3 linked regions of the Homo sapiens genome follow. The protein of the gene in region 2 interacts with the protein of the main gene of each other region in a pairwise test. Each region holds a gene or a part of one and is shown on either strand. Other genes may lie near its edges. The genes, in order: RGS14, VIPR2 and URM1.

Region 1 (2,739 bases), on a different chromosome or scaffold from region 2:
CTCAGATCCACAGAGACCACAGTACAACAGCAACATGATGGAGAGGCACAGCTCCCCACAGGGTTCTTCACCCCCACACCTCTCCCCGCCCTCTCTCTCACCTCCACACCATGACAGGTCTCACTCTGTCATCCAGGCTGGAGTGCGGTGGCACGATCTCGGCTCACTGCAACCTTCGCCTTCCGGGCTCAAGTGATCCTCTTCCACCTGTCTCCCAAGTAGCTGGGACCACAGGCATGCACCACCACACCCAGGTAATTTTTTGTATTTTTGGTAGAGACAGAGTTTTGACATGTTGCCCAGACTGGTCTCAAACTCCTGAGCTCAAGCGATCCACCCCCACCCCCCTTGGTCTCCCAAAGTGCTGGGATTACAGGTGTGAGCCACCTCACCCAGCTCCCATATTCTTAAAAAAAAAAATACTATAAGATATTCACACACCACCCCATATACTGTGCAGTCAGGAAGAGAGGTTCTGAAAACAGGAAGTCAGGAGGCACATCCTGAGGTCCCCAAGAGTTTCCTGGCACTGACCTTGGTGACAGAAGTAGTGTGTTTTGAGGGTGGGGGAAGCCACAGGACAGTCTGGCACACAAGGAAGACAACTCATGGCAGAATAATAATAATTATTATAATAACAGTATCATACATCAAGGACAAACCCAGCTGCCCCAAGCCTACTGCAAAATCTGTATGTACAGTATAGTCTATGTGGGTGGGGTACAGGGCTGCCTGCCTGCACCCTCAAGGCCTTACTCATACCAGCTTCCTGAGGAGGGGCCGGCCCCTCCTCTTGCCCCTGTTGAAGCTTGGCACAGGCTGGGGAGGCTGGCACTGCCAACGCCATCCCTCCATGTTGGGCAAGCCTGTTCCAAGGGGCTGGACTCACCTCCCCCATTGTGGCCTGGCTGCAAGGGATTGGGGGTGAGCTTGTTGAGGGACAAGGCGGTGGCAGCTGTGGGGTGTGTCTCATCTGAGTCCCCTTTCCACCCCTACCGGCTCTTCCTGCGGGCCTGCCCATGGCAGGAAGGGGCCAGGGACACTCATGGCACAGACAGGGCATGCAGAGCGGACCCATGGCATGCTCGGCCCGCCGGGTGCCATGCAGCTGTCCTGGACTGTTGGGTAGCTGTCAGAGGGCTGAGTCGGTGGTGGAGTTCAAGGATCCCCCGATGGGCTGGGCTGCTGATTTGGTCTGTGGTGGGGTCTCCTCGGAGCTGGGCCCTTGGGCGGGCAGCTGCAGAAATTCTGGAAGTACCAGGTCCTCTTTCCTCAGAAGGCCCCTCTGGTCGTGGGCCCCGCTGCTCTGCACCCGGTTCAGCAGCTCCACCAGGCCTGGAGGCAAGCCACAGCATGAGGGTCCCCCCAGCAGACCTGCCTATATGCCAGCCCACGATAGTCCCACTGCCTTACTGTGGCCACTGCCTCCCTGGCCCCAGCACCAATGGCCTGCGGCCCCCTGTTCCAGCCCCTTTGACCCCCCAACCCCCATCCTTCCTGTTCCACGCCCAGTGGCACCCAGCCCCCTGCCTTAGCTCAAGGCTCTCTGATGCCACCCTGAATGGTCCCCAACCCCACTGCCCTAGTCTTTCTGATCCCCAGCTCATCCACCATGTACCTTCGATGTCACAGGTCTGCCGCTTTCCAGTGGCACTACTGGGCACCTTCACCAGAGAACTGGGGGACGCTGGAGGGGGATGGGTGGCCTTATCCTGAGTTCTAGGTGGGCAGCCCTGCGAGAATTTGGGGTCAGAGCCAAAATCGGGAGGGGAGAAGCAGAGGGTGGAAGAGGCCACTCGCCTTTCGCTCACCTGGCTGCGGCAGGGAGATTTGTCACGGGCTTTGGAGATCTTCACACCTGCAGCAGAGAGGGCCACAGTTAGTGTTTGCCTCCCACCTGGACCCCCTTCCTCCTGGGCCACAGCTGTTCCAGATCAAGCCCCGAGGCCAGCGTCCCCTACCTGGAAGAGTGTCCAAAACCAGTCTCTGGGCCGCCACCGAGCTCACTAGCTTCCCCAGATCCAGAGGCTGTTTCTCGCCTGGCTGTGGGGAGAGGTCAGCAGCCCGCGGTACAGGCCTCCGCCCGGCCCCGGCCCCGGCCCCGGCCCCGGCCCCGGCCCCGGCCCCGGCCCCGGCCCGGCCCCGCCCCGCCCCGCCCCGCGGCCCGGAAGCTCACCCGGTGCAGCACCACCTCTAGCGGGCTCAAGCCGTGCTTCTCCAGAATGGGCTGCAGCGCCTCCTGCAGCCGCTTGGTGGGCTTGGCTGAGATTCGTACCACGCGCTCCAGCGCCGTCAGCTCCAGCCTGCGAGGAACCCTCGGGCAGCAGAGGGCCGGAGGGCCGGCCCCCCGCCAAACCCTTCCCAGGACAAACGCGAGGGGGTGGAGCTTGAACTGCAGAAGGTGGGACTGGCTTGTAGGGGGCGGGGTTTGTCCCAGGGGCGGGGCTAGCACGAGGGGCGGGGCCTGGGGAGCCAGGTAGCTAGAACAGGGCCTGAAGGGAGCGTCAGGACCTGGGACCCAGACTTGGGGGCAGGACACTCACTCGAAGGTGATCCTGTTTTCCAGCCGCACTTCCTGATCCGCCAGCACGGTGCAGTCCTGATCCAGGACCAGGGCCTTCTGTGGATGCCAGGCAGGGTCTAAGAGTCCCTCCCCCAACCCCCAGCCATCCCTGTGGGTCTGAGAACAACTTCACGCCCTCCCATGGCCACCACTGGGCTTCCTAGAGGAAGGGATGG
Region 2 (3,652 bases):
ATAAAAGTATTTGATAATATTTGTTTGATTTTTCACTGTCAAGATGCCTTATTAGCAACAAAATCTTAGGTTACCTTCATGGAGTTGTCAAATAATTTGCATAATGCATAGCTTAAACATTTTTAGACCTACTATTTGGTCTTAATAACCACCTGGTGAAGGTTAGATATAAAAATGTTGCATTAATTATCTTCCAGATGAAAAGCACTAAGGTTCAAATCTTTTAATGAATTCTCAATATCACACAACAGTGATGGAATGCATGTTAAACCCAGGACTTTCCTACTTGTCCATGGTATTTATACTATATTTGAGACCTCTAAAATTTTACCTTTTACTTAAACCTCAGTATCAGAAAAGCAATGTGCTAGCCTTGGTCGGTAAAACAAACAAACAAACAAACAAACAAACAAACAATCAGTTTTCCTTTCAGCACATGCCACCCAGACCTGTGCAATAATTGCAGGAATACATCCATAGAGAACACACAGCTTTGGTGTGAACAAAGGAGTGTTTTACTTTCAAGAATACAGAAATGTCTCTGAAAAGCTGGCCATAAGCTAAGTTTTGCAGATGAAAATAGTTTCTAAATACTTTCAATAAAAGTGAAAATATATTTATTATAAAATAAAATTACATACCAATACTTGAATAAGTACATAAATTCATATTACATTAATGTTAACATATTTAAAGAAAATGTTGGTTTTCTTTTAAAATGTTCAAAACAAGTGATCAAATGTAAATGCATCACTAGAAACTCCAGGCGTGAGCCCCCGTGTAAGGCTGCTTAGAGTCTAAGTAGTAGAGTTATTTAAATGCTAAGTTCGTAAACCAAGCACTTCTAACTCTGGTGTGTAGGGCAGGTGGTGGAGAGGTGTCAGGATGGGGTTCCTAGCCAAGAGTGAACAAGATGGAGAGGAAAGTGAAGATGTCTAGGCCTCCAAGTGAAGACTCTGCATGTGATCAGCAAAGTTCTGTCCATCTCCTATAAAACAGCAAGCTCTGGCAGTTTCGTGTCTGGTTATTTTGAAGGTTCAGCTTTTTATCACAAAATGACAAATTTCTACCTTGATAATAGTAATGGCTGGGTGTGGTGGCTCACACCTGTAATCCCAGCGCTTTGGGAGGATGAGGTTGGTGGATCATTTGAGGTCAGGAGTGTGAGAACAGCCTGGCCAACATGGTGAAACCCCGTCTCTACTAAAAATACAAAAATTAGCCGGGTGTGGTGGTACACACCTGTAATCCCAGCTACTCAGGAGGCTAAGGGAGGAGAATTGCTTGAACCCAGAAGGTGGAGGTTGCAGTGAGCCGAGATCGCATCACTGCATTCCAGCCTGGGTGACAGAGCAAGATTCCGTCTCAAAAAAAAAAAGCAATAATTATATAATATTGTTATTTTAAAATAATGGGCTGGGTGTAGTGACTCATGTTTGTAATCTCAACACTTTGGCAGGCTGAGGCGGGATAATCCCTTGAGCCCAAGACTTCAAGACCAGCGTGGGCAACATAGCGAGACCCCATCTCTACAGAAAATATTTAAAAATTCGCTGGAGGTAACAGAGCATGCCTATAGTCCCAGCTACTAGGGAGGCTGAGGTGGGAGGATCACTTGAGCCTGGGAGGTCGAGGTTGCAGTTAGTAAAGATCATGGCACCGCACTCCAGCCCGGGCGACAGAGCGAGACCTCGTCTCAATAAATAAACAATAAATAAGATAATGTATAGTAAGATAACTAATACATAATACAAATTATAATGCAATAATTATATACTGTATAATACTAATTGCTGCTTTAAATTTCAACAGAGATACTAAATTCATACCACATCAAACAGTCTTTGCATTACAGTAGGATTTGATTTAAACATCTAGAGCTAATCATCTGATCCCTTCAATGGCCAGGGAAAGTCTTCTCTTCATTTGTTCCTTTATTGGACCGCACGTGAGGGAGCAGAGCTAGACGCTGTCAGGATGTGAGGAAGCGGACTCGAGGGCGTCAGGGCGCCGAGGCTGAGGTAGCAGCCGGAAGTGCAGCCGAAGGCGCAGCCGGAAGCGCTGCCACAGTGCCGGTCGCACACGTGGCACTGGCTGCAACCTCCTGGCAACAGCTGCCAGGCGGGAACACAGGAGTTTCTCTCTCAGCTTCTCAACCTCACGCAAAGGACAGCCAAAAATTTGAAAGGGCAGCACCAAGAGATGTCACTACAGCCTTGCAGACAGAAGCAACTGTGTTAAATAGGCAGGCAGAGGAGGGGGAGAAGCGAGAGACAGGCCATCGGTACCCCCGGCACCGGCAAGGGTGGAGGACGCTGCAGGGAACCGACGGGACCCGGCCGAGAGCCCCGACTGTGAGGAGGCGGCTCACGGCGCCTACCTGGGACCGACCCTGACTGTGAGGAGGAGACTCACGGCGCCTACCTGGGACCGACCCTGACTGTGAGAAGGAGGCTCATGGCGCCTGCCTGGGACGGGACCCGGCTGAGAGCCCCGACTGTGAAGAGGAGGCTCACGGCGCCTACCTGGGACCGACCCTGACTGTGAGGAGGAGACTCACGGGACCTACTTGGGACCGGATCCTGACCGTGAGGAGGAGGCTCATGGCGCCTTCCTGGGGCCAGATCCCCAACCGAGGACCCCGACTGTGTGAGCAGGAGGCTCACAATGCCTGCCTGGGGCCAGACCCCAGCTCAAGGATCCCGACTTGGCAAGGAGGGGGAATCCAGAAGGAGTGGCTCTAGGAGTGAGAGAAGAGAGACAGACCCTCTCACATTGTTTTAGATTGTTTTATACTCAGAAAAGGAAACAGAAGCGAAACTAAAGGCAGGTAGCCCAGCGCCTAGGAACCAGACCCGACACCAGGCCTGGACCTGCCTGACCTAAGCCTGGTAGTTAAAATTTGACCCCTGACCTAGCAACTGATGTTATCTATAGATTGCAGACATTGTATAGAAAGACACTGTGAAACTTCCCGGTCTGTTCTGTTTCACTCTGACCACCCGTGCATGCAGCCCCTGTCACATACCCCCTGGCTTGCTCAATCAATCATGACCCTTTCATGTGAAACCCTTAGCGTTGTGAGCCCTTAAAAGGGACAAAAATTGTGCACCTGACAAGCTCGGATTTTAAGACGCTAGTCTGCCAATGCTTCCAGCTGATTAAAGCCACTCCCTTCACCATCTCGGTGTCTGAGGGGTTTTGTCTGCAGCTCGTCCTGCTACAAGAGAAAAAATGGAACCCTGAGACCACCTCAGTGCAGTGTCTTGAGAGTGTTCTGGCCTGAGGTTTGATGCCTAATTATTGAGAGGTAGGTGAAAAACCCAGCAACAGAAAAACGAGGAAAAGCATAAAGTTATGAAGAAAGGAAATGCTGGATATTATGTGGCTCAACTGTGATGGCAATGATGTACACCAGCAATGTGAAGTGAGTCTATCAGGAGGCTGGCAGGATGATAAATTATACTTGGGTGGTGGGAATGGCACAGGAGAGATAGATCTTTATTCTTGTTAGAAATCTAATGGACACTGGGATGTAAATTGGGAGGAAGAAAGAAAAGAAACAGGAGCATAAGTATGCTGTTTAGAAATAAAATAAATACCAGAGAAGAGATGAAAGAGATGCTGCCATAGGGCTGAGAACTGGGGATGA
Region 3 (3,652 bases), on a different chromosome or scaffold from region 2:
CTGCCCAGGCCTGTGCTTCCATGTGTCTCTGACTCAACACTTGAATCACGATCCAGCTCAAATGTATGGCACTACCATTACCATTACTTGAGTGGACAACTGGGGAGGTAGGGAGGGAAGGAGGGAGGAAGAAAGAGACTAAGAGTATGGACCCTGGAGTCAGACAGGCCTGGTTTTGAGCTGGACTCCATCACTTACTAGTTCTATTACCTTAGGTAATAGGAAGCCTCGGCTTCCTTTTTTTGTAAAATGGGGATGTTAACATTGTCTCATAGGGTCATTGTGGGGGATCAAATAAGACGATATATACAAAGCTCTCAGCACTGTGCCCTGCATATCAATGCTGTAATTACTCCAGGATCCAGAGGAAGAACCTATACCCCTCGCGCTCTCTGGGTTTCTGCACGCTCTGCCCAGTGGCCTGGCACCTCAGCTTTAGAGGGCAAGGTAGAGCCAACCATTAATCAGATAGTGCTGGGACCGGCTGGGGTTTTCTGTGGCATCCCGTATCTTCCCATCAGAAGCTGGAAAGGGAATGAGGGGACTGCGAGAGTAGTGAGGGGTCCTAGATACTGACCTTCCTTCTGTGTTAGATGTTTGAACCCACAAGATGTTGGGGTTGGCCAATGCTCCCAGTACAACCCAGGTGGTAGGAATGACACTCTGAGTCTGTAGGTGCTGGCGGCCAGGCTGCCCCCGGGCACACAGCACCAGAGGAAGGAGATGGGCACTTAATACAAGGTTTCCAGTGCAGGATACCTTGGCACCTGGCCTGCCCATCGGGGGCAGAGCAGGCAATGAGAGCTGCTGCTCTATGCTGGAGTGGTTGAGTTCTGAGTCTACAGCCAGAGGACCTCGGCTGTGTGCTCGATGGCCTTAGCTAGGAAGTCACTTCATCTTGCTGTCTCAGTGTCATCCTCTGACAAGCAGGGATAATAATCCAAACACCAAGAGCTGCTGAGGATTACGTAAGGCACAATGCCCAAGGCAGGCCTGGCAGTGTCACACACACAGGACACGCTCAACAGATGGCTGCTCTGAGCTGTAAGCCCACAGTGACTTCAGATTCCTCATCCTCTGGGCTCCAGTACCTTCTAAAGGCTGCTGCCAAAGGGAGGATACCCACTGTGGAGAGCACCGACGCAAGCTCCACCAGAATCCCTCGCCCCGGTGGACTTGTCCTATTCTGGGGGACACTGACTGCCCACTGTGGGAGGGCCCCAAAGGGTGTCAGCCTCAGCCTCGTGGGACTGAAACGGAACAACCTCAAAGTCGTATCTGATATTGACTCGCAGGCGTAACAGACCCTCATCCAGCCTCTCTTTGAACACCTCCAGGGACAGGAGGTCAGCTCCTCTGTGGAGCGGCTCTGATTGTTAAGAGCTCTTTTCTCCCAAGCAGAAATCTGTCTTCCTGTCATTCCCACCCACTGGGCCTGAATGGTCCACGGGGACCATGCCAACAAATGCACCCCCTCTTCCCCAGGATGGCCCTTCAGATTTGGAAGAAAGGATCCCCTAAGTCTTCTCTTCCACAGGTTAAACTGCCTCTGTCCCCACCAAGTCCACCAGGCTCCAAGACGGCTCTTCGGAGAGCCCACCCCAGGCCTCAGTTGAAAAGGGAAAAGAAAGAGCTGGCAAGGGGGGAGTAACAGAGGAGAGGGGGTGGAGGGAACATCAGAGGGGCCATTTACAAGTGAATGGGGGTAAGAATGGAGCAGTTTGTGGGCTAAACTGGCCTCAGAAGGAGGTTTACAGATGTGCGAGGGGACCTCCTCATTGTTTAATTAAGCAGAAAGTGGATCTTTTCAAAAGCAATTTTGCACAGGGACTGGGAGGGGTGTGGGGAGGAGGGAGGTGGAGAGGGGATCAGCAAACAGGCCCTGAGAGCAGAGAAAGGAACAGCTGGCCCCAGAGAGGCTGTGAAATGCATGCTAAGCAGTTTAAAGCGCCCAGGAGCTCCTGCAGCTCCTGCCCTCCCTCACCAGCCACCCTTTAACACAAGTGGAGCAGGCAGAGGGGGCACAAAGGCAGGACAGGGGAAGACAGGCAGGGAAAGGTGAGGCGGCCATGTCTACACTTGGGGCCTGGGCAGGGGGCCTTGGGTCAAAGGGATGCTTGAATCACAGAGGCCAACTCCCAGCAGCCGCAATACCCTAAGCTGGTGGGTGCCTGCATGGCCGTTTCAGCGAGATGGCTGTTAAGACATCCCTTCTCTCACACAACTTCTTACTGGGTCAGCACACTCTGCTTCACCGAATTGTATATACTTGGATCTTGAAGAAACTTTTCTTATAGATGTCAAAGAGACAACCAGCTCAATAACATACAGAGCGAGCCCAACCTCCCATCTTACAGATAGGGAAGAAAGAGTCTGGCAGGAATAAGTGATGTGCAACTGCGCGTGCCAGGCTTCCTCTCTCGCAGTCTCACTCCCTCAGGCCTTGCTCATCATTTCTCCCAAATTGGCTGGGTTGGAAGCTCTCCCCTGGCCTAGGAGCCACGAGTTCCCTCATTTGTGAGGCTTGTCACATTCTGAAATCTTACGGCTGCTATTATTTCTGCTGGAACCTCCAAGACTCGCTTGGCCAAGTGGCAGCCCCTAGGCTGGGAAGTCTGCCAGATGACATATCTGGGCATGGACTTGGGGGAAGGGTAAGACTCTCCTAGCAGCACCAGGCCCCTGACCCCCAGCTGGGCTCACATGTGCCAGGGTGAGGCCTGGCAGCTGCTAACCAGCTCTGTTGGTGACCTAGGTCACCAACCTAGGTTACCATGGGTCTGCTGTGTGACCCATGCCTCTGGGCACAACAGGAACCAGGTGTAGGGACTCACAGCAAAGGAGCCAAAGACTAAGTGGGCCATTGTGCCTTCCCTCCCACTCCCCTCCTTTCTTCCCAGAGTGGGGATAGGCCCCTGCCTGTTCCCTGAACAGTGGCTGGAAGATGAAGGATAAAAAAATCTGAGTCCCAGCCCAGCCTCCCTACTTGGGTAACTCTGGGCAGGCCTCAGGTCCCTCCCTCCTTCTCTTTCTCTTTTAGGGGTCTCTTATCTCTTGGGGTCATCTGAAAGTTGAAATAAGTAGTTGTTGAACTCATGAATAAATAAATGAAGGAAAGCGTAAAAACTGGAAAATGTAAGATGTTAGAGTAATTCAGGGAGCCTCTTGGGATAGACGGTGATGGGTTAGTGGCAAAGCGCCAGGACTCTGAAATTCAGTGGCCTGAAAGCTAGTTCTGAATCCCAACCCTGCTATTTAAATAACTCTATGACTTGGGGTGAGACCCCTGACTTCTCTAAATTTTGGTTTCTACCTTTTATTTGTTTTGTTTTTTGTTTTTGAGACGGAGTCTTGCTCTGCGCCCAGGCTGGAGTGCAGTGGCACGATCTCGGCTCACTATACAACCTCCACCTCCAGGGTTCAAGCGATTCTCCTGCCTCAACCTGGGATTACAGGTGCCCACCACCATGCCCAGCTATTTTTGTATTTTTAGTAGAGACAGGGTTTCACCATGTTGGCCTGGCTGGTCTCTAACTCCAGACCTCAGGTGATCCGCCTACCTTGGCCTCCCAAAGTGCTGGGATTACAGGAGTGAGCCACTGCACCTGGCCTTGGTATGTTACCTCCTTAAAGAGACCTCTGCTGACCACCT

The links.
Region 1: the proteins of VIPR2 (region 2) and RGS14 interact in a two-hybrid assay, tested with the Homo sapiens proteins (one large-scale study listed by BioGRID and IntAct).
Region 3: the proteins of VIPR2 (region 2) and URM1 interact in a protein complementation assay, tested with the Homo sapiens proteins (one large-scale study listed by IntAct).

What each region holds. Positions count from the first base shown.
Region 1 is NC_000005.10:177,370,469-177,373,207, reverse strand, and holds the end of RGS14 (regulator of G-protein signaling 14), read right to left. Parts: intron 2,621-2,739; coding exon of another isoform or gene 2,618-2,620; coding exon 2,544-2,617; intron 2,304-2,543; coding exon 2,177-2,303; intron 2,044-2,176; coding exon 1,962-2,043; intron 1,859-1,961; coding exon 1,812-1,858; intron 1,734-1,811; coding exon 1,619-1,733; intron 1,336-1,618; coding exon 1,133-1,335; 3' UTR 612-1,132; downstream 1-611.
Region 2 is NC_000007.14:159,110,313-159,113,964, forward strand, and holds part of VIPR2 (vasoactive intestinal polypeptide receptor 2 isoform 1 precursor), read right to left. Parts: intron 1-3,652. UniProt on the Homo sapiens protein: G protein-coupled receptor activated by the neuropeptides vasoactive intestinal peptide (VIP) and pituitary adenylate cyclase-activating polypeptide (ADCYAP1/PACAP).
Region 3 is NC_000009.12:128,381,374-128,385,025, reverse strand, and holds part of URM1 (ubiquitin-related modifier 1), read right to left. Parts: intron 1-3,652. UniProt on the Homo sapiens protein: Acts as a sulfur carrier required for 2-thiolation of mcm(5)S(2)U at tRNA wobble positions of cytosolic tRNA(Lys), tRNA(Glu) and tRNA(Gln). Serves as sulfur donor in tRNA 2-thiolation reaction by being thiocarboxylated (-COSH) at its C-terminus by MOCS3.